3 separate regions of the Homo sapiens genome follow, and all the other regions are linked to region 3. The links come from fine-mapping of genetic effects on gene expression. A gene starts in region 3. Each other region holds a variant in brackets. All regions are shown on one strand. Distances are from middle to middle.

Region 1 (8,184 bases), 25 kb before region 3:
CTGTTCCAGAAGGCCATTGCAGGCCTGGAAGCTTCCACACAGCCTCATGTGGGAGGGATTACCCAACCCCGGTTTCTGATAAAAGAACTATCTCAGCTGTGGATCATCATTTGAATAAAAATCAAATGACTTAGGATCTGTCCAAAATGAAGAATGTTTTAATACTTTGTGTGTAAAAACACTGATATTTTGCTTCTTTTTTATTAAACAGATTTTATTATTTTTCAGAATCTTGTCAGCATAATCATTTTATGGGTGGATGAAATATTCAGCCCTGCTGCTGCAGGAGTTCTTTCACAGCAATTACCTTGTGGCACTTTTGCTGTAATTAGGTTTTCGCCTAGGATTTTTCCCTGGGTCTGGGTAATAAATGAAATATGACCAGAATTTAAATTTGTCAATTACAAGCAAGTGTAGTGCGTAAACACACAACAGAGCCATGAATTCCAAACCACAGGCTGTTGCTGGGGGCCAGATGCTCGGAAAATTAAAATGGAAATAAAACTACTGACTGGAAAACGAAAAGTGGCCCCCAAAGAAAGCAAATCTCCCCTAACACTCATGCGTGATTCTACCCAACTGTGCGAGCTCTTGACTACAAATTCTTAAGCGTGAAACTGGCAACTCAAGAAACAAGCAGGGATTTGCATTAAAACCGTCTACGCAGGGCTCTGATCTCCTGCCTTATGAACTCCTGTTTCTTGAGGCCAGATCAAACAGTTTTTGGACATAGTGGGCCAGGGTTCCATGATGGTGATGTTCTCTCCAAGCTGCTCAAGGACTGCCAGAGATTTGGGCACAGGATCGGCTATCTTTCAGCAGCTGCTGTTTTCGCTGACCTGACTTCAGTAATTGCTCCTATGGGGCCCTCTGCTGGCCATCTTTTGCAGAAAGGGAAATCTTAGGGATCTGCACTGTTGGAGACTTTGACAAATAATGTTTCATTAAAACAACCACCAAACAAAAACACACTTTTTTTTAACTTTCATATATAAGAAGCCCTAGACAAGGGAAAAGGAAGTCACAATTTTATAAACTTCCCAAGTGCCATGCATTTAATATTCATACAACAAACCTTTCTTGAGCATCTGTTGTGTATCAGACACCATGCTAAGTTTGAGGCATGTAGGGGTGAGCCATGGAGCTCATGGTCTGGTGAAGGAGACAGACTGGAATCCACACATCACACAAATGCATATTAAGTGAGGATTCAATTAGAAGCTATCAAGGAAGGAAGGATGTCCCAGTGGGGACGGTGACACGGCTGGGGCAGCTTTCAGGGAGGGCTTCCCTGGAAAGGGAACATTTGGGCTGAGATGAGAAGGAGAAACGAGCATGATAGGCAGAGGGAACAGCATATTTCAGGCCCTCATGTCAGGAGGCATCCTGGCAGATGGGAGAGCTTGAAAGAATGTCAGCAAGGCGGGGATGCAGGGAGTGAGGGGGAACCCAGGGTGAGATGAGGCTGGAGAGGGAGCAGGGGCCAACCATGCTATGCAGAGGGTTACATTCTCTCTCCTGATGCCTGTAGGAAGCCACTGAAGGGTGTTAAGCAGGTGACGAATGGGAGGTAGTGGGTGGTATGCTCATAATTGGAGTTTAAAAAGGTGATCCTGGCTTCACAATGGAGAACAGATTGGACAGGAGGAAAGAATAGATATGAGAAGTCCAGTTGGGAGTGTATTGCAGTCATCCATGGGGAAGATGATGGGGCCTTGTTTAACATGTTGGCAGAAGAGATGGAAATGACATTACAGAAATGTTTAGAAGTAGAATCAGCACAGACTCCGTGATAGGTGACACCTGGTGATGGAAGAATGGGATGCTAAGCATGGCCTATATGATCTCATTTAATTGTGAGAGCCTTGGAAACAATTCATATTCCCATTGTATGCCTGAGGAAATTGAGACTCAGAAAGACTCAGGGTTGGACTCCAGATTACTCAGCTGGGAAATGGCTGGGCCTTATGCCTTATAAACCAAAAAGTATCTGAGACAGATCTCAATCAGTTCAGAGGTTTATTTTGCCAAGGTTGAGAACACAATGGGGAAAAAGAGACACAAGCCACAGTCGGATCTGTGGCCCTATTTCTTCCAAAGAGAATTTTGAGGGCTTTGATATTTAAAGGGGAAAATGGGTAGGATGAGAAAGGGGAAAGAGAAAATAAAGGGAGGATATGGTCACATTCCACACGTTGTAGTGAAAAGGAGGGGGTAGAGGAAATAGTCAATTATATGTTTGTCTCATGCTCAGTAAATCTGCACTTTACATAAGATAAAGTAAACATGGAGTAGAGGAAGCAGTCAATCAAATGCACATTTGTCTTGGGATGGGGAGTGGGGACAATTTCTAGTCTCCTCTTGTCCCATACCCATGAAGATAAGCTGTTGATTTACATTGTCAGGGTGAGGAAGGCCTTCTGTGGAGACATGCAACCTTCTATCTGTAGCTATCAGTTTAGAAACAAAAGCAAAGGCAGGTCTTTTTGTTTTTTGTTTTTGCTTTTGTTTTTTGTTTTTGTTTTTGTTTTGTTCATGACTCAGATTCCAGGATGAGCCCTTTCCCTTTGGCACAGTGAATTTGGGGCCCTGAGATCTTATTTTCCTCTCACAGCCTTCTATTCCTCCATATTGTTTCTAGGGTTGCATAGGACATTTGCTTAGAAACTCCTCTCCCTACATCTTGTTATCTATCCCCTCCATTCTTGAGACTACCTCGAATGGTTTGCCATGTTTGTTTTCCAATCTGCCTCTCCCACTAGACCGAGCTTGTTGAGGCCTGCAGTTGTGTCTAGTTTGCCTCTGTTCTGCAAGTGCTTAGTTCCGTGCCTGGCTCACAATGAGATTACTTGCTGAGTGATTGAGAAACTTTCACCAGTCTCCGAAAGAAGACAGACATTTAGAGGGCAGGGTGGTTTAAATTTTTCTCACTGGCCTAATTCTCTCTTGTACCCAGACCACAGTTTTGGGATTTAGGCCGGAATGCCCAAAAAGGACTTTTAAGAAGGAACTGGAAGTTTCTAGAAACCTAGTGTGGCCAAAACAAAACAAACAAACAAACAAACAAAAAACAGGCTTTAGAATCATGAGGCTCTGGATCTAAATCCTAGCTCCTCAATTAATGAGGTGTGCATCCTCGAGTTACTTATCCTCTGTAACTCTTCAGTGTCCTCATGCATAAAATGAGGATAATTTGAGTAGCTGTATTTAGTTAATAGGGCTGTTGGGAGGATTGCATTTGATCTGTGCAAAGGGCTTGGCACATTAATATATAAATTTCCTGTTTTTGTAGAAAAGAAGGATAAGAATGCTTATGGCTAGCCAAGAAAGTGGATGGGGCTGGGAATTTGTCTCCACTTGACCTTAAAGTTTCCCTCACTTACTGACTCCTCTTCTTGTGGTTTATTCTGGAAGGAGGAAAGAGGAAGTTGGCTCTCTGGGGGTCCTCAACAAGCTGACAGATGTCCCCTAAGGCAGCTTTCAACAGAGAGCTCTTTATTATTATTATTATTATTATTATT[C/ATTC]TTTGTGATTTACAGTGTGTGTCTACGAGCCTCTGGGCACAATCATGGAGCAGGAATGGAACTAATAAATTGGATCTGTTTCCAGCTTAATTCATGGCTCTGACAAAATTAGAAATGGAGACAGATGGGAGAGCCTAAACACAAAAAGTGTCCCTAAGCCTAGGTTCTCAGGTGCACGAGACAGCAGGCAGAACACTCTCCGGCTAGAACTGCAGTTGGTGCAAGACAGATCACATAGATGGAGGAGAGGAGACTGTGGACACCCCAGAAAGCCACAAATCTTTCCATTCCAAAACTGTTTGACTTAGGGATCCAGGCCTCTGGGATAATATACGCATGGGTTCAAATCCCAGCTGCACTGCCTATTTCTATAAGCTCGAGCAAGTGGCTGAAGATCACACAGCTGGCTATTGCAGTACTGGCTTCAGATGCAAGTCTGATCCCAAACCTGTGGCTTTTAACCATTATATGTACTATGTTGTTTATGAACATAGTTTGTCATATTATGATTGCACAACTGTGAATTAATTCCTTCAAATCAATACATTGTATTCGGAAGGAACTCAAGAAATACATGCTGAAAGTTTTGCTTAGATTATTTTCCCCCTGAAATTCCCTTGCTCCCTCAATTCCCAACCACAAAACAATTATAATGATCACTGGAAAAAGCATTTTAGAGAAATGCGTCTTAAGATCTTCATGAATTACTAAATTCACAATGTAAAGATAGATATCCTGGCTGTCTCTCAACTCTTATTTTCTTCCAAAGCCATGAGCTCTCTGGGCAAACCCTCATGTCATGTATTAACTGCTGCCTGTTCTTTTCCATTATCCTAGGCCCACTTGTCACAAACTAACAGGATGTTGATTTCCCTAGTGGCTCCATAGGTGCTGCAGGGTCAAGTGGGGGTGAAATGGGAGAGTGGGCAGTGGTGGGGCTCCCTCCCTTCCCCCATCCCAAGGGCAGCAGGATTCAAATTCTCACGTCAGCCAGGTGCCAACTGGCCAGGCCACTCATTAACCTTTGGGGTGCTTTCCCATAGTCAAAGCCAGCACAAAGCCAGCAAATGCCAGGAGCCCGCCACAGTATTGCAAGTCCCCCAAGGGCCATTCCTCCACCAAGGCCAGGCCCCATCCTTGTTGGGTCACAAGCACCCTCTTAACATTTCCAGGCTTATATTTTATCATAGTCAATTTATTATTATTATTATTATTATTATTATTATATATTTTTGCGATGGGGTCTCACTCACACCCAGACTGGAGTGCAGTGGAGTCATCATGGCCCACTGAAGTCTCAGCCTCCTGGGTTCAAGTGATCCTCCCACCTCAGCCTCCCGAGTAACTGGGACCACAGGTGCGCACCACCAAGCCCAGCTAATTTTTTTAGTTTTAAAATTTTTATAGAGATGAGGTCTTCCCATGTTGCCCAGGCTGGTCAATTTGTTTCTTTTAATGGAAATTAATCCTAGTTACAAAACCAAAACCATCATGGAAGTCTCAGAAAAGCACTCAAAAAGAAAAACAAAAACATTACTGGTAATCTCTCCACTCAAGGAATGTAACTGCTAACATTTTATTTCAAAACCTTCAGTCATTTCCCCCCTTTTGTTGTACAGCTTTTGAAAAAGGATTTTGCGTCCAAATGTTCTTAGGTTTAAGAAAAGGGGAGAAAAAAGTACTAATGTTATCCTTCCCAGAAAGAACTCGAGTAATCCCTATTATGTAAACTCTTTCAAAGAAACAGTCTGTTCAATACAGTTGCTAAGTCGTTTGTTGCTATAGCAATACTTGGCCCTAGAGCGCCATAAACAACCATCCTGACTCTAGCCTCCAAACACAAGGCCCCATTATCTCCCTCAGAGCTCTTCGAGGAGCTCATTTTGCCAAAGCTATTCATTTAAATTAGTAACTCCCTTCTTAATCACTTGAATTGCTTGTGCTTCACACCAAGTCACACTAGGGGGCTAAAAAAGCAGTTAGGGCAATATATTGGGATGCAGAGAGTTGGGGTCAGTATGCCTTTGATTGCGCAGATCTTTCCTTCTGGTGCTCTTCCTCAGCCGCTCTCACAGTCTGCCGTCTTGGATGCTGGCCACCCAGGGCAAAGCAAGGTTAGGCTAGGTGCTTCTGGGTGCAATGCCATTATAGTGAAAATTCTGGCAACACCATATTTAACCAATCCCAGGTAACTTTGTTGCATTAAAAGAACTAAAAAAATCAGAGAACATTCTGGAAAGCTCTTTGTAATGTTATATTACAGCTGCAGAATATCGTAACTGAAGGAAGATGTTCTAAGTGCTCAATATGTATTATTTAATTTGATTCTGGCAACAACCTTGTGGATTCAGCCAGCATTTCTCCTTGGTTTTACAGATGAAACAGTGGGGGCTTAGAGGTATTAAGTGACTTGCCCAAGGTCCCTGACTAGAAAGTGGTAGAGGCAGTTGGTTTCAAACCCATGCTGTGTACTTCACTCAGAGCCTGTTCTCTTGACCTTTATGTTACATTGCCTTGCAGCAAATGGATAGACATGTGTGGAGCTCTGACTCGTTGCACAAAATACAAGGGATTTAACATGCATTGTCTAAATGCTGTGATTGGTCTGGATAGACGTTATCACTTACATTGGTAGGTAGGGGAGCTAAGACCCAGAGATGTGGTGCTCCCAGGGTTGGCCAGCCAGCTGAGGTATAGAGGATTTGAACTCACCTCCCCCTGCTTCAAAGTGCTTCTTCCTCTACACAGCATAATTTTGTACCTAGAAATCACTAAGCCTAATGCTCTCTTTTTACAGATGAGGAAACTGAGGCCTGAAAATATTAAATGGCTTGCCCAAGGTCATTTCTCAAGGTCTAGAGCATACCTCCCTGCAGCCTGACAAGGAAGATGGAAGAGAATTCATCTGTGCTAAGCTGTTCTGGTATGCAAATGGCCCCTTTGCATTCATCTGAGTCCCAGGGGTGTCTGCAAAAGCAACTGCACTTGAAGAGTGTCTGTTTAATGTGAGATGATAGTGGAATCTTCAACCACTTCTACTGTGAGCTGGGCCATCTCGTCTCCCTAACCTGGCTTTGTCAAGCTGTGTATGCAGAGAAATCCACACTGGAAGTGCAGCATCTGGTGGGTACCCCGGGGGAAGAATGACATCTCTAATGTTTGGTCCCATTTGTTACTCCTACTCCATCCCTGCTGATGGCTGTGGCTCCTGTCGAACAGCCCTCCAATGTCCTCTTGTTACATCTTCTGGGCACTGCTTTCTCCCTGTGCCCCTTTCAGGCCTAGAGAGAGCAATGGTGCCCTACTGTTTTTAGCCTTGGGGTGGGGGGAGGGGCTTCCTCATAACTTTCTCCTTTATCCAGTCTTGCCCACACCATGGTAAATTGTCTCTTTAATAAATTACCCAATTTGAGCGTGCCCTCTCTTTTCTGCTGGGACAGTGACTGAGTCACTCCTCCAGTATTCCCTGATTCATCACCCCATTTATTTTCTTCCTGATACTTACCACAATCAGGAAGTGTTTCATTTATTATATATTTGCTTTTTATTGCCTTTCTGTCCTCCAGAATGTGAGCTTCAAGAGGATCTAGAAGCTCACTGGTTGATTATCTAAAGTCCGGATGACCACATTCACAGCCCAGCTGTGACAATTTACTGCAAAGCCTGTAAAATGACTCATTGCAACTGAGTTGGTGGCTCAGTTGGTGGCTGCCTCAACTGAACAGTCCCTTCCAAAGCTCTTTTCAGGGTGAGAGTAAAGGTTATATTTCAACTCCACACCCTTAGGCCCTGGATGCTATTTCTTTTTCTGGATTTTTCCTGGATAATTTCCACTGCAACAATGATGATGGTCAGGACCACGGTGATCATCTTGCTGAGCTCACATTCATTTCAGCCAAGAATTTGCATCCACCTACTGTGGGGCTGGATGGTGCTGTGGCTTCCAGGAAGGGGAACCCATCGCAGATGGATGCTCTCTACCTGCCTGGGCACTTTTTGAGGAACTGAGTGAAACTTCCATTTGCCTGATAAAAAGAAACAAAAACCCACCCATGGGTTCATCCAAATAATGTGTCAAAGGCTATTCAGGAGGAGCTCTGGGCTCTGTTTATTTGGTGTGCCCTCCCCTCCCATCTCCTCCCACTTTCTTCTCTTCCCTTCCTTTCTCTCTCTTTCTCTTTCTTCTCTCTCTTTTTTCTTTTTTGGAATAGGTGTGCTGAGGTTGGCAATCAGATGGGCAAAACAGAGCAGTTTTTGCAGGTAGAACAGCCCCTGGCTGCTTTCATAACACTCACAAGAGAGCAATGATCCTGGCAGGTACTTTTGACATTTAGGGCCTGCTTGGTACAGTTCTTACTGCTCAGCTCTTCATCATAGCTGAAAAAGCCCTCCAAGACACTGCCTGCTTGCCAGCCTCTCTCTCACACCTCTCCAGCCTACCCAGCCAGCCATCTGCCAGTCCCCAAATACACCAGCTTGCTTCATGTGGCTCTGCTTTTGCCTTCAATGCTTTCCTTGCCTGCTCTTTTCCCCTTGTCTCCTGGCTGAATGCCACTTATTCTTATTCTTCCAGACACAGATACAGTCGGTGTCTCACTGAGGTTCTCAAATACTTGCTCCTCAAAGTGTGGTCCTTGGCAGGTGCCAGTTTGCAAACCCTCTC
Region 2 (8,184 bases), 47 kb before region 3:
ATTAGTCTTAAAGGAAGTGCATTATCCTGTTAGGGTTCCTAGGTGAGTTGTGACCCACATCTAGAAAAATGAGTTAGGCTTTTCCCTCTCTAGCAAGCAATCAAGGCTGGGGCGATCCAGGCTATGGCTGCAAATATTGGTTGCTGAGCCTTTATGAGTGTGAAGGTGGCAGTGAGGACACAGCAGAGAGATCATGAAGGAACTCCTGTGCCATGCTGCAGATCCCACCTCTAGACACCATGAACCGTGTCTGACCTCCTGAGTCCTTATGTTTCCTAACACTATTAATGACTGGGGGTGAAATAGAGATGCAGAAACCAAAACCAAAACCAAAAACAGAGCAACCCGAGGCAAGAATATTGTAATAGTGACTATTTAAATGACCCCTTCATATGAAGTTAAAAATATATGCATTTCAAATTACATATATATATATATAGATATGTAGATATATATATATATATATACACACGCATGCACATATTTTATCTATTTTTTTTTGAGATGGAGTTTCCTTCTTGTTACCCAGGCTGGAGTGCGGCAATGGCGCAATCTCGGCTCACTGCAACCTCTGCCTCCCAGGTTCAAGCAATTCTCCTGCCTCAGCCTCCCAAGCAGCTGGGATTACAGGCGCACACCAGCACGCCCAGCTAATATTTTTCTATTTTCTAGTAGAGACAGGGTTTCACCATGTTGGTCAAGCTGGTCTCAAACTCCTGACCTCAGGTGATCCACCGGCCTTAGCCTCCCAAAGTGCTGGGATTACAGGGGTGAATTACTGCACCCGGCCCATATTTTATCTTTATCTATGGTTTGTTGGATGTTTATGAGGAATTTTTTCAAAGTTCTATAGCAGAAATCATTAAACTAATTGCCACATTTACATTTTTTCCCCCCACAATCCTCATCACTTGAAGAGGCAGCATATATTATGCAGATAAAAAAACTGAAAGTGAAGTTCCTGCTTTTCATTCCAATGTTGACTCATCTCCCTATCTTGACTCTTTCAGGACTTTCTGTCTGTGTCAGATATTATTGACTACTTCAGGAAAATGCCACTTCTGCTCATTGATGGGAAAAACCGAGGTTCCAGATACCAGTGCACATTAACGCATGCTGCAGGGTACCCATAGCAAGTTATAGCCGAGCAAATGAACCGTCCTCCTGCCTCTGTTGCCAACACGAGATCAATCAGCCTTGGTCAATGGACAAACACTTAGGACTGAACTGAACCCCTCCCCATGAACACAAGGGTTTTATCCTTTCCTTTAAAAACAGTGTTTGAAATGAAGACTGTCAACTATCCCATAATTTATTTATTCTTCTTCAATGTTTGTAAAGTGCATGAGTCATGTTCACACTTGAAGTCTAGTAGTGCACTGTAATAATTCATTTTTTAAAAGATTATTTAATGCCCATTTCAAAATACAGTAGTTTACACAGCTACAGAAACAATTTGGGGCAAGTTTTAAAACACTGAAACAGTAATAGTTATTGGTGTCACATAAAACTGATTTGTTTTTTACAGCCAAACCTCTGTCAGTCAGAGGCATTCATTAGTTTTATACATGTAATTTGAAAATCACTAAACCTCGTTTTCTCAGCAGCAATAATTTAAGAGGCTTCAAAAATATAATTTCACTCTTATTTAGTATTTTTTCCTGGGGGCATTTTTACGTAATTTTTTTATGAAAAGACAAATGCATGTTGAGATAACTTCTGGGATTAAAATAGTCTTTTGCTTTACTTTTTTGGTTTCCTAAAACAACTTTATTGACTTTTAGTCCATACTGTTATATTTTTGTCTTAAAGAAAATTTAAACTACAAATACCAAAAGAAAACATTTTAAATTTAGGGATGAGACTTTGGTGTATCGTGGGTCTAGGTTTAATGAACACATCTGGGGTTAAGTTGGCATTTCTTCACATCTCCACACCCACACCAACCATCACAGCCCCCCACCAACCTTCTCCCAACCCCAAAAGCATTGTCCAGGGATATAGATTTTACCAAAGGCTTCCTGGGAAGACGAGGGAGCAACACTTTAGATTAAATGTGATCAGACTTTCCTATTAGATATGGCTCTTCTGTCTCTTGTTATCCCCCTGACAGCTCTGCCATAAAGTCCCTTCTCCTCATCCTTCCCAAACAGGCTGTATAAGTGCTTTGAGGTAATTAAACTCTTTCCTCCAGTTTACAAATATCACTTAACAAAAAATATAGGCATTCAGCCAGATTAAAAAACTGGTATTCAGCCAAATAGTGACAATCAGTTGTTCTTCAAGTTTTTCCCTTTGGGACCTTGGTTGTTATTGCACAACTTTTATTAGCAACAATTTTTGGCGTCTCTGCTTAATCTACAAGTTTTCGAAATGGAAAAGAGTATCTTGCAGCTTCATTTTCATGAGCTAATAAAAGGGGTATTGGAAGGAATCTAAGAAGTCACCATTTTAAAACTGATGATATGTTAAAATAAGGAGTATGCAGAAGGTAGAGACTTTTAACTGATGATAAAAATGGTGTTTCACAAAATCTCATCCTTAACAACCAGAAGTTCTCAGTTTAGGGTCCAAAACTTGGGAGTTTAAGGCTGAAAACCCTGCATTCATTTACACGTCTACACAACGGGCTATTCAGCAAGTATTTACTTAGTGGCTCTTCTGTGTTAAACAAGTGAGCTAGGTACAAGGTAGTAAGGATAGCATACACCATAGGTTCTAGTATCGAGTAAGCTCCACTTGTCTTGCTTTGCCGTATTCTATCTTTACAATTCAAAAATATCTAAAATGAAGGACCTGATAGATTTCAAAGCAACTATTTGGTAGCGAATCATGTTTATAAAACAAACCAAAGCTCATTTTAAGTCTATTAGTGGAAAGTGCCATCAGGATTAAGATGTTCTGTTCCATGGCTATGACTGAAATCAATGTTGGGAAGCTAATGTTTTCATGACTAGCATTCTCTCTCTGTTCAAGCACCGACAACTCCTTTTGGCTGGGCCTTGCCTCTTTTGGCCACAGACCTTCTATATGACCCCAGGTGCATCAGTCACAGTTGCTCAGAACCCTGCTCAGTGATAAACATCTTACTAAAGCTGGGTCAATCAGGGTCACTCTCTGGAATGTTAAACATGAAGCCTGAGACAAGATCTCTCTTTTATCTGGGGTCCCCAAAGGCAATGCTGTACACTTGGAGCTGCCTGCTGCCCTGCAACTACTCCCATTTACCAATTATCTGGAAGAACCAGTCTAC[A/T]ATAGAAGACAACGAGGCCAACACACAAAAACACAGTAAAAGTATGGACAAATTAGTGGGATCCCTGAAATCTATTCCAACTATGTGCTTCCAAGTCACATGACTCAATAAATGCTTCAGCTGGTTGAGTTGTGCTTGGCGTTCACTACCAGGAGAGTTCTGATTAATAAAAACTCATTCCATCAATTAATAATTTAGTAGCTCTCTTTCAACCTGAGCCAAATTCAAGCATAAGCTAAAGGATAAGCAGTGACCCATGGCCAATTTCCTATGTCATACACTTGCCATTAGTGACGTAAGTTAAGCCATTCTTCAAAACATTAAACAGCCTTCAAGAACATGAACTGCTTGTTTACATTATTTTTATTTTGTTTTAAATTATATATATACAAATTAGTAAACTCAACTCTCCCAAATATTTGTTAGTTCAACAATAAAACAGAAACTCATAACAAATAAGAAATCAGATAGAAAAACTGTTAGAAACAAGGGATACATCTGATATTTTAGACTCTTCAAAGAGGGGGTTGTTTCTTTCTGCTTCTGCTAAGTTCTCAGTCTTGATGGGATGATTAAAATGTAGGATAAGGTCACAAAGCAATAACTGGGAGAGCTCTGTGCAAAACAAAACAGGAGATATTATATTGTAGCACATATGTCATAAAAAACTATTATTGCTTTAAGTAGCTATTTCTTCCTAATTCCTAATTTCCAAGTGATTAGTGATCAAACCACAACTTAAGTGTGTCCCATTCTGACTTAAAATAAGATTTATGCTCTCGAGGAGCCAAGATGGCTGAATAGGAACAGCTCCGGTCTACAGCTCCCAGCGTGAGCGACGCAGAAGACAGGTGATTTCTGCATTTCCATCTGAGGTACCGGGTTCATCTCACTAGGGAGTGCCAGACAGTGGGCGCAGGTCAGTGGGTGCGCGCACGGTGTGCGAGCCGAAGCAGGGCGAGGCATTGCCTCACTTGGGAAGTGCAAGGGGTCAGGGAGTTCCCTTTCCGAGTCAAAGAAAGGGGTGACGGACGCACCTGGAAAATCGGGTCACTCCCACCTGAATATTGCGCTTTTCAGACCGGCTTAAAAAACGGCGCACCACGAGATTATATCCCGCACCTGGCTTGGAAGGTCCTACGCCCACGGAGTCTCGCTGATTGCTAGCACAGCAGTCTGAGATCAAACTGCAAGGCAGCAGCGAGGCTGGGGGAGGGGCGCCCACCATTGCCCAGGCTTGATTAGGTAAACAAAGCAGCTGGGAAGCTCGAACTGGGTGGAGCCCACCACAGCTCAAAGAGGCCTGCCTGCCTCTGTAGGCTCCACCTCTGGGGGCAGGGCACAGACAAACAAAAAGACAGCAGTAACCTCTGCAGACTTAAATGTCCCTGTCTGACAGCTTTGAAGAGAGCAGTGGTTCTCCCAGCACGCAGCTGGAGATCTGAGAACGGGCAGACTGCCTCCTCAAGTGGGTCCCTGACCCCTGACCCGGCTAACTGGGAGGCACCCCCCAGCAGGGGCACACTGACACCTCACACGGCAGGGTATTCTAACAGACCTGCAGCTGAGGGTCCTGTGTGTCAGAAGGAAAACTAACAAACAGAAAGGACATCCACACCAAAAACCCATCTGTACATCACCATCATCAAAGACCAAAAGTAGATAAAACCACAAAGATGGGGAAAAAACAGAACAGAAAAACTGGAAACTCTAAAACGCAGAGCGCCTCTCCTCCTCCAAAGGAACACAGTTCCTCACCAGCAACAGAACAAAGCTGGATGGAGAATGACTTTGACGAGCTGAGAGAAGAAGGCTTCAGACGATCAAATTACTCTGAGCTAACGGGAGGACATTCAAACCAAAGGCAAAGAAGTTGAAAACTTTGAAAAAAATTTAGAAGAATGTATAACTAGAATAACCAATACAGAGAAGTGCTTAAAGGAGCTGATGGAGCTGAAAACCAAGGCTCGAGAACTACGTGAAGAATGCAGAAGTCTCAGGAGCCGATGAGATCAACTGGAAGAAAGGGTATCAGCAATGGCAGATGAAATGAATGAAATGAAGCGAGAAGGGAAGTTTAGAGAAAAAAGAATAAAAAGAAATGAGCAAAGCCTCCAAGAAATATGGGACTATGTGAAAAGACCAAATCTACGTCTGATTGGTGTACCTGAAAGTGATGGGGAGAATGGAACCAAGTTGGAAAACACTCTGCAGGATACTATCCAGGAGAACTTCCCCAATCTAGCAAGGCAGGCCAATGTTCAGATTCAGGAAATACAGAGAACGCCACAAAGATACTCCTCGAGAAGAGCAACTCCAAGACACATAATTGTCAGATTCACCAAAGTTGAAATGAAGGAAAAAATGTTAAGGGCAGCCAGAGAGAAAGGTCGGGTTACCCTCAAAGGGAAGCCCATCAGACTAACAGCGGATCTCTTGGCAGAAACCCTACAAGCCAGAAGAGAGTGGGGGCCAATATTCAACATTCTTAAAGAAAAGGATCTTCAACCCAGAATTTCATATCCAGCCAAACTAAGCTTCATAAGTGAAGGAGAAATAAAATACTTTACAGACAAGCAAATGCTGAGAGATTTTGTCACCACCAGGCCTGCCCTAAAAGAGCTCCTGAAGGAAGTGCTAAACATGGAAAGGAACAACTGGTACCAGCCGCTGCAAAATCATGCCAAAATGTAAAGACCATCGAGACTAGGAAGAAACTGCATCAACTAATGAGCAAAATCACCAGCTAACATCATAATGACAGGATCAAATTCACACATAACAATATTAACTTTAAATGTAAATGGACTAAATGCTCCAATTAAAAGACACAGTCTGGCAAATTGGATAAAGAGTCAAGACCCATCAGTGTGCTGTATTCAGGAAACCCATCTCACGTGCAGAGACACACATAGGCTCAAAATAAAAGGATGGAGGAAGATCTACCAAGCAAATGGAAAACAAAAAAAGGCAGGGGTTGCGATCCTAGTCTCTGATAAAACAGACTTTAAACCAACAAAGATCAAAAGAGACAAAGAAGGCCATTACATAATGGTAAAGGGATGTATTCAACAAGAAGAGCTAACTATCCTAAATATATATGCACCCAATACAGGAGCACCCAGATTCATAAAGCAAGTCCTGAGTGACCTACAAAGAGACTTAGACTCCCACACATTAATAATGGGAGACTTTAACACCCCACTGTCAATATTAGACAGATCAATGAGACAGAAAGTCAACAAGGATACCCAGGAATTGAACTCAGCTCTGCACCAAGCGGACCTAATAGACATCTACAGAACTCTCCACCCCAAATCAACAGAATATACATTTTTTTCAGCACCACACCACACCTATTCCAAAATTGACCATATACTTGGAAGTAAAGCTCTCCTCAGCAAATGTAAAAGAACAGAGATTATAACAAACTATCTCTCAGACCACAGTGCAATCAAACTAGAACTCAGGATTAAGAATCTCACTCAAAACCACTCAACTACATGGAAACTGAACAACCTGCTCCTGAATGACTACTGGATACATAACGAAATGAAGGCAGAAATAAAGATGTTCTTTGAAACCAACGAGAACAAAGACACAACATACCAGAATCTCTGGGACGCATTCAAAGCAGTGTGTAGAGGGAAATTTATAGCACTAAATGCCCACAAGAGAAAGCAGGAAAGATCCAAAATTGACACCCTAACATCACAATTAAAAGAACTAGAAAAGCAAGAGCAAACATGTTCAAAAGCTAGCAGAAGGCAAGAAATAACTAAAATCAGAGCAGAACTGAAGGAAATAGAGACACAAAAAACCCTTCAAAAATTAATGAATCCAGGAGCTGGTTTTTTGAAAGGATCAACAAAATTGATAGACCGCTAGCAAGACTAATAAAGAAAAAAAGAGAGAAGAATCCAATAGACACAATAAAAAATGATAAAGGGGATATCACCACCGATCCCACAGAAATACAAACTACCATCAGAGAATACTACAAACACCTCTACGCAAATAAACTAGAAAATCTAGAAGAAATGGATAAATTCCTCGACACATACACTCTCCCAAGACTAAACCAGGAAGAAGTTGAATCTCTGAATAGACCAATAACAGGAGCTGAAATTGGGGCAATAATCAATAGTTTACCAACCAAAAAGAGTCCAGGACCAGATGGATTCACAGCCGAATTCTACCAGAGGTACAAGGAGGAACTGGTACCATTCCTTCTGAAACTATTCCAATCAATAGAAAAAGAGGGAATCCTCCCTAACTCATTTTATGAGGCCAGCATCATTCTGATACCAAAGCCTGGCAGAGACACAACCAAAAAAGAGAATTTTAGACCAATATCCTTGATGAACATTGATGCAAAAATCCTCAATAAAATACTGGCAAAACGAATCCAGCAGCATATCAAAAAGCTTATCCACCATGATCAAGTGGGCTTCATCCCTGGGATGCAAGGCTGGTTCAATATATGCAAATCAATAAATGTAATCCAGCATATAAACAGAGCCAAAGACAAAAACCACATGATTATCTCAATAGATGCAGAAAAAGCCTTTGACAAAATTCAACAACCCTTCATGCTAAAAACTCTCAATAAATTAGGTATTGATGGGATGTAATTCAAAATAATAAGAGCTATCTATGACAAACCCACAGCCAATATCATACTGAATGGGCAAAAACTGGAAGCATTCCCATTGAAAACTGGCACAAGACAGGGATGCCCTCTCTCACCAGTCCTATTCAACATAGTGTTGGAAGTTCTGGCCAGGGCAATTAGGCAGGAGAAGGAAATAAAGGGTATTCAATTAGGAAAAGAGGAAGTCAAATTGTCCCTGTTTGCAGATGACATGATTGTATATCTAGAAAACCCCATCGTCTCAGCCCAAAATCTCCTTAAGCTGATAAGCAACTTC
Region 3 (8,184 bases):
ACATGTACATACACACAATTTCTTTTTCTGAGACACACGAAGAAGTTGCATACATCATAGTCTTTCATCCCTGAATCCCTATGAGCTTCCTAGAGAGAAAGATATTCTCTCACATAATCACAGTAGGGTTATCAACAGTCTAAATTCAAAACTGATACAACTCCTTTTATCTGATCTATGATTTACGTTCCAATTTTGTCAGTTGACTGAAAAATATCCTTTATAGCATTTTCTCCTTTAGTTCAGTTTCCAGTCTATGATCAGGCTTTGCGTTTAGTAGTCATGCCTCGTTAATCTCCTTTAATATGGAACATTTCCACGGTTCCCTCTCTTGACATCAGCCTCTCTGAAAAAAGAGGGCATCAGACATATGTGGGTTTCAATCCTGACTTTATCACCTTGGAGCTGAACAACCACAGGCAAGCTACTTCACCTCCCTGAACCTCAGTCTTCCCATCTGCTAGATGGGAATAGTAATATAATGAAATGTGGTGAGAAGTCAGTGAAATCATGCACGATCTGAAGGCACCAAGCAAGGTGCCTGGAACCTAGTAAGTAATCACCAAATTCGATTCATGTAATAAACGTAATATAATTAGTTCTGGTTCTGTCACTTATTTGCTGTATAATCTTGTGAAAGTTGCTTTGCCTCTCAGAGACCTAATGTCCTAGGTTGTAAAAGTGGGGCTTTTCATACCTTCTTCCTGGGATTGAAGGAGATAAACCAGGTAAGGCATCCAGCTCAACGCTGGTGCATGGAAGTGTGCAGTCAATGCTAGTTCCCCTTCCTCTTGCAAATGCTGACTAGCTTCTTAGCAATAAGGCCTCCATTTCCCTTATCAGTGTCCCTTTCATACAGAATTCTCAAAAGGGAAATACACACTTTCTGAACATTAACTACAGGGGCAAAACCCTTACAGGAGGTGCTATCATGTGAGAAGCTCTGAACATCCAAAGATGATAGCTCTTTAAAGGGGAAACCAGAAACTTCACCCTCCCCATGGATGTTTTTACCAAGTGTATTTTGGAATAATCTTTTCTCTGTTGGTCAAACAAACGGCCCTTGTAGGTGTGGTGGGTGTGGTGGAGGTTTGGGGAGTGGGGTGCTGGTGTGCCCAGAGTGGCCATGATTCATTGTTGATTGAAATTAGACTGTGGGCATCCATGTGACCTTTGTGTCATCATGGAAACTCTGATGAGAGTGACTGCCCAAAACAGAGCTCTCCAGGGCTCAGCACCCTCCCTCCTGGAATGTGTCCCAAGGTCTTTCCAGGGCAAGTCGGGCCTCAGCTCAGTGTCACCTCTCCAAGGAAGGCTTCTCTGGGCTCTGCATTTGATGTTGACTTCCTTGTTTTAATGTCTGCTTAGCACTCTCTGGTCTGGCCTATCTGTTTATCTGATTCTTTTGTGTTTCCTCCATTATCTGTAAGCCCCAGATGTCAGGGAAGTTGCCTGTGTTACTCTCCACTGAATGCCCAGCCTAGGTCATGGTGGTCATCAATTTCATTGGTCACCAATATCTGTTGCTTCAATAAATGAGTCCTCTTCACCCTGTTTGCTCTGTGATAATGAAGCCCAGTGAAGGTCTTGAGCCCCATCATGACTTGAAGGGTGGATTGTGAGAGCTCAAGAGTATGTCTGTGGAGGATGCATTAGGACTGAGTTGGGGGGTCATGACATTTGATCCCTGAAAGCAAGAAAACAGCTTCCACTCTCGGATATGGTTTCCTCTTTTCTTTGATTGCAACTGGTTGTCATGATCCCTCCAGTCCATCTTGGGTGCAGAAACCCTGGGGATTGCCAAAGGCTCCTTTCTGAACCATCTTTTCAAACATGCGGGACATTCCCTGTCCAAGTGAGCTGCAAGGACAAAATAGAAATTTGTGGATGCAAAATGAGATTACTGATGTGGTTGCTGAAACTTATAAAACTCCCTCAGTGATAGGGGTTGTGGTGGCCTGTAAAGGGGATAATGATGACACCTTCAAGCTCTCCTTTTATACCACACAGCCGGTGGAGTCAGGACTTAGGTTCGAATCCAGTCAAGCTATATACATCTGTGTGACTTGGGCAGACACTTTTCCTCTTTTAAGTATCAGTTTCCTCACCTGTAAAATAGGAGTGATAAAACCTACCAAACCTGTGAGATGTCCCCATGACAGAGCACCCAGCACAGGCCACGTAAGGGCTTTCCTGATGTAAGCTTAAGCAGGACAGGCTCGGGCTCAGGACTGAGGCCTCTGGAGCCACCCTCCTACAGGCTGGGTGGCCATGGATAATGTGCTTCACCTCTCTGAAGTCTCGGTTTTCTCACCTGTAAATTGGCCGTAATAACACCTAGGGTATATTTCCTAGGGCTATTGGGAGAACCAGTTAGAATATATTTTTCACATAAAATGTCATTCAGGTAATTATGGCTGTTTAAAGCCTTATAAACTTAGATCTTGCCCTTGTAGACAGAAATGAAACAATTGCTGTGACTGGGTCTGATATCATAGCCAAACCCCTACACAAAACAACAGACTTATCATTCAAACAAATCAGTGAAAATAATTGGTCTTGTAAGTTGTCAATACCCTGTGCAACAAAAGCATTGGTGGAATGACCTTGAGCATTAAGGGGGAGTTGTAGGGATATCTTCTAGAGAAAAGATGGAGTTGTCACCTCCCATGTGCTCTGCTACATCTTCTCTTTAACTTTTCCCTTTGCCCAAAGCAACATGGACCATCTGTTTAATCAACCTCCACCACAACTCCATTCCCCAGTAAGCCAAGTCAGCAACTACTCAAATGCCTCATTCTAAGATGTGCTGATGGAGTGTGGCCTGCCTCAGAGGGTCTCTCCCTTCAAATAGGTCTATATTGTCTGGTTTGTTTGTGAACAGAGCCAGGTAGGTGCCGTGTGGCTCAGAGAGGTGGCTGGAAGTGACCTTCCATGACTCAATTCCACAGGTTTGTTTGCAAGAACACAGACACACGAGTGGCCACTGACAATATGTGTTCCAACATTATATACGGGGTATATTTTGCTCAGAAACATGCCCTGTTAGTTGTTGAAACCTTTTTTGCATTCCCTGAAACAAACGACACTATGGTGTATTTTCTTTTGGGGGGCAGTAAATAAAAGTCTTTTATGTTGACAATGATAATATTATATTCTACAATCTATTTGCATTTCTCTATCCTGTGGATTTTATTGCTTAGTATAAATCCCCAGGCTGAGGTGCATTAAGCTTCACTCAGAGAGAAACAATGCATTTTATCATAGGGCCGGACAGCTATATGCACAAGATGCTACCTGCAGAGATTGGTTTTTGCCCAGATGTGCAGGAGAGATGCACAGAGAGGAAGAAATGCATACATGTGTGCAGGTTTTGGCGTGTGCACAAGAAGCCTGGAAGGATTTTCTTTGGATCTACAGTCAAAATGGATTTCCGAGAGGAAGCTGTCTGAAAACACACCTCTTCCCTGTGCTACATACGGTCCCATCTCTGCCAGCCAGGTTGTCAGGAAAGTGATCAGCACTGGCTTCAACTCTGGCTAGAGCTCTTTGGCCAATGTGATGGGCAGAAAACTGGAATGAGGACAGAAAAGCACCTCAGAGGTTTGAAGAGTCTAGTCTCTCACCACCTTGCTGTAGGTTTTCTGAATACTTCTGAGTTTAGGAGCATTTTTTCTCAACAGGCAAGTCAGGAGCTGCTAAGATAAACCATGGCAGTAAGCTCGAGCCAGTGTTCGTATTTGCCATTGATCGGCCACCAAGTGCTTGCTATGTGCCATGCATTGTGCTAAGCACTATCTCATTTAATATTTACAGCAATCTTATGAGGTAGATGCTACTGTTATCTCCATTTTACAGATGGGGAAACTGAGGCACAGAGTTCCACAGCTGGTAACTTGAGGAATAGGAATTCAACCACTGGAGAGTCTGGCTGGAGTTTTTTGTGGTAGGAGAAAATATGCTGTCTAAATTTGCCTTGGGAAACCATCATGGTGGTCACAAAACCACTTCTACGGCTTGCCTTGACCTAGCAGGAATGAAGATGTAAAGAAAGAATGAGCGCGTCATGGTTATGATGGGATGATGATGTCTGTTGTGTTGTTTGGTGTCAGTTTCTGTAACGCCTTTCTATTTCAATCAAGGCTATTATCTTTTCCTCTGTTTTAGTGAAGTTTCCTTGAAGTAGAAAATGGGAGTGTATTGGGCATCTCAGAGTTTTCAGCTGAACTGAAGGGTCTGATGGTAACTTTACCCCCAAATCTCTGAGAGAAAAGCAGGGAGTCCCTGCTTCAGCTCTGCTCAGAAGAGCCTCCCTCACATGGTGGTTTCTGTGTCACTAGACTGGTTAACCAAATGGTTCTTCTAAATACCCAACTTTTAATAGAAACTCCTGCGGCTTGGATTATTAAAGTCCTAACATGCTTATTTAATCGTGTTTCAAGTCCATCTATCTTTTTTGAGTCTAAGGAAGACTCACTAGGTCAGAAGGAGTAGAGGGAAGAGGATTAATACATGATTTTCTTTTTCCCCTTTTTCTTTTAACTTAGGCTGAGACTTATTTGAATGCCTGTTTCATATGGAGCTTTTAAGTGTAACAGTTGTGAGTGAAATTGCCCCTTTTCAAGGTAATTGAATTCCATTTTTCACTTTCCATTTCCCTCTAGAAAAATCAAAACGTTTTCAGAGCTTGGCTTCTTAGTGGGTGATTTTCTAAGGTGGGAACTTTAGAACCATAAAACATTCTAGTGTGGCAAAGGCATTCAGGAACCGGATGACCAGGCCCCTTCTCCGCAGGTGAACAGCCTCCACCAGCCGGTCTTGGAGAACATATTGATTTCACTGTGTTTTTATTTGAAACACCAAAGGAATGCCCATATCTTGTCCTTGGGCCAGGGCTGTGGGTTAGGGGAGCTGGGTTTCTGTCCAGAATCTTGTCATCTGTAGGGCAGCTGAGGGGCATTATTACCCAGAGGTCCCTGGAAACCTGTGCTAAATTGGTTTGGATCAGTGTCCGTGAAAATGTTGGACAAAGGAGAGTCGATTTTAGCTGACACCTGGACACGACTTTAAATAACACTGTATCACGGAGCAACACAATGTCCTCCCAACTCTTTTTCGGTCTTTCCGATTATGTTAGGGACAAAGTCTCAGTTTGGTGCTGTTGTGGTCGAACTATCTTCTCATCTCTGTTTTTTAAAGTCAGGCAGATCAAGCCTTACTCCTAGGGCTTTAGAAGGTAATAGTTTCTGATTTGGATTTAATCACATTGTTTTATTTCCTTTTTAACATTTTTATGACAACTTTTGCTTTATAGCAGTTTTAAAGGTAGGAAAAAATTTTCGTTTGAAAACAAGTTGGTTTGAGATGTTTTTCACTCTTACATAAAAGACCCACCTTCACAGCGTATGAGCTTCTAAAGTTGGGGAAGCAGTGGCTTAGGTGGGCAGGCAGGAAATTCAAGCAGGTTGGTTTCTGCCAAAGTCAGAGATGATTGCCACTTACTGGAAGGCTGTGTTGGAACAGAGTGGGCACAGGCATTGGGAGCAGAGCTGATTTCCAATCTTCCTGCTGCCCTCGCTGCCTGTGTGTGCCGTGGCCTTCTTGAGCTTTAGTTTTCTCACCTGTGGAACAGGTTTCATGAGCAGTTGGAAGGAAGCAAATGAGCTTCATTTTCTACAACAGGGTGGGTGGTGTAGTTGATATTCACCCCAAAGGTGCAGGATCCCCACTTCTGTTTATTGCCAGCGCTCCGAGTTTGCTTCTGCATGGAAGGGGAAGATGGACTAGAGCTGATACCTCCTGCACCCTGGTGAAGAAATGCACCCTGAGGCCAGAAAATAGTACAAACCCATCTGGCTGCAACAGTCCAGCAGCATGAAGATCAAAGTCACGTGTGAGTTTTGTGCACGGGCAGCCTTTCCTCTTCTCAGGCTGCAAATCTTTGGCAATCGGAGGCAGGCTCTGAATTAAGCTTAATTAAAATTCACTCTTAATTAGGGCCATTACTTAAAATCAATTCTACATAATAAAGCTGTGTAATCATAATTAAGCCCCAGAAATGGGATTAGGAAGCACAGAATGCAAAAGCCAAACATGGGTGAGCCTGGTGCTGGCAGGGGCAGTGGCAGAGACTTCTCGAGTTAACAGAATTTTTAAATAGCCAAGGCCCCGTGAGTGCTCTGATGAGAACCTGGGTGGCAGGCAGCACAGTGAGCTAATCAGAAAAAGGATTTGAGATGAATGGGCCCCGAGAGGCAAAGCTCCATGGTGTGGTGTTACTGGCAAGAGAAAGGAGCGGCATAAAACAGAGGGGACCAGATGAGTCTCCTCTCCAGGCCCTGTTTCCCCAGCTGTGAAATCAGGGTGGAGGGCAGCTGTTTCCCAAACAAGGATGTCTCTAATGACTGTCTGCAAACTCAGGACCCCTGATGTGGGGCTCTCTTGAGGGGATTTCATGGCAGCAAAGTCAGGATCGATGCCATCTGCTCGTAGCATGACAGGGGTCCTGTGGAGTTGAGTTTTGTAGTTGTTGGCATCATTGAGGTGGTGGTTGTCTATTTTTTAACTAATGAAGGGGGGGGGTGTGAAGTAATATTTGACAATCTCTTACTTCCACACTGATGAGCACATAACAATTAGGAGCTTGGTTTTGGAATGAGCCAATCAATTTTGAATTTTAGATGTGCCAATTATCGGCCAAGTGGTCTAGGGCAATATTTACTTCACTTTTCAGTTTATTCAACTGTTGTATGAGATTATAATAATAGTAGATACCTTGAAGGTTGTTCTGAGAATCATGCATATGTGTATAGCGCAGTGCCTGCCAAATAACAACTAATTTTATATTGTTTCAATGTATTTATAGTGTTAATTATATTTACATTTTGAATTGGCTGTGCATCAAGCACTGTTCTGTTTTATATGTATGAGCTAATTTTATTTTCACAATCGCTCTGAATAAGCATTATTATTTTCTCTGATTTCTAGATAAGGAATCTGAGGCTCAGAGAGGTTTAGTTCCTTGCTTAAGGGCGCAAAGAAAGTAACTAGCAAATAATAAGAGCCGCATAAATAATATTATTATAAGGATACTATCTATCTGTATGTGCTCAGAAGCTACAGTGAAATCCCCGGGGAAGTGGCTTACCTGTACTCATCCCCCAGAACGCAAGCCTGTGCTTCTAACCCTGCCAGAATAAGGCCAGGCATTTGAGTTCAGAGCGAAAGGGTCTACCAGGTGCGGATTCCGGAGCTGTGGAATTGGAGCCGGGAGGGAAAGCCAGAGAGAGCTCCTCCCCATATCTGTTTTTCTTTAATTATTTTATTTTGTTTTATTTTATTTTATTTTATTTTACTTTACGTTACGTTACGTTATGTTATTTTATTTTAGAGATGGAGTCTCTCTATGTTGCCCAGGCTGAACTCAAGCTCCTGGGCTCAAAGGATCCTCCTGCCTCCATCTCCTGAGTAGCTGGGATTGCAGGTGCACGCCACCATGCCCAGCTCCGTATCTGTTTTTTGATTTAGTGTTTTAGTTCAGAGGGTGCCTCACACCTCTCACGTCACATATGTGAGTGCTAACTGTGTGCCTGATGCTGAGTTGGCCTGGACATACACTATCTTATTTAGTTTTTACGACAGCCCAGAACGTCAGGAAGTATCACTCCCATTTTGCAAATGAGGAAACTGAGGCTCAGAAAAGCAAAGCTCGTTGACAAAAGTGAAATATATCATTTGACCCCAAATTGGCACAGAGCTGGAAATTGGGTTTTCAATCCATTTCATCAAACACTATGCAGTTCCAGAAAAGTTGCTCAGGCTGGGGTGCCTCCCAGACTCTGCCTCTGCTCACAGCCAAGTCAGCTCAGCTCAGCAGGAAGGATCTTTTTTTTTTTTTTTTGAGTTGGAGTCTTGCTCTTATTATCCAGGCTGGAGTGCAGTGGTGCAATCTCGGCTCACTGCAACCACCTCCTCCAGGGTTCAAGCAATTCTTCTGCCTCAGCCTCCTGAGTAGCTGGGATTGCAGGCGCACACCACCACGCTCAGCTAATTTTCTCTATTTTTAGTAGAGACAGGGTTCCACCATGTTGGCCAGGCTGGTCTTGAACTCCGGACCTCAGGTGATCCGCCCGTCTCTGCCTCCCAAAGTGCTGGGATTACAGGCATGAGCCATCATGGCCACCC

Alleles and levels. Alleles are on the strand shown, and positions count from the first base shown. SD is a standard deviation of normalised expression in the study named. Not every link is listed here.
For the expression in naive CD8 T cells of the gene that starts at base 3,236 in region 3, allele ATTC in region 1 goes with a lower level than allele C (large effect, 1.1 SD a copy in Schmiedel 2018).

What was found. PIP is the estimated chance that this variant, and not a neighbour inherited with it, causes the effect.
Region 1: its variant is fine-mapped to the expression of LINC01187 in naive CD8 T cells (Schmiedel 2018, PIP 0.91).
Region 2: its variant is fine-mapped to the expression of LINC01187 in whole blood (TOPMed, PIP above 0.99).

The regions. Positions count from the first base shown.
Region 1 is chr5:170,218,717-170,226,900 of GRCh38, reverse strand. No RefSeq gene overlaps it. Among named protein-coding and RNA genes, the nearest start is that of C5orf58, 10 kb to the left of the region's middle. RefSeq lists an enhancer at 6,328-7,527. The variant C/ATTC (reference allele first, on the strand shown) is at 3,522.
Region 2 is chr5:170,241,646-170,249,829 of GRCh38, reverse strand. It overlaps C5orf58 (chromosome 5 open reading frame 58), which reads right to left. Exons shown (of 4, transcript NM_001102609.3): 4 at 3,599-3,868. The coding sequence ends at 3,717. It overlaps LCP2 (lymphocyte cytosolic protein 2), which reads left to right. Exons shown (of 21, transcript NM_005565.5): 21 at 1,011-3,597. The coding sequence ends at 1,133. Among named protein-coding and RNA genes, the nearest start is that of C5orf58, 13 kb to the right of the region's middle. The variant A/T (reference allele first, on the strand shown) is at 3,254.
Region 3 is chr5:170,194,193-170,202,376 of GRCh38, reverse strand. LINC01187 (long intergenic non-protein coding RNA 1187) reads left to right here and starts at 3,236. Exons shown (of 5, transcript NR_108022.1): 1 at 3,236-3,635; 2 at 4,548-4,625; 3 at 5,746-5,893.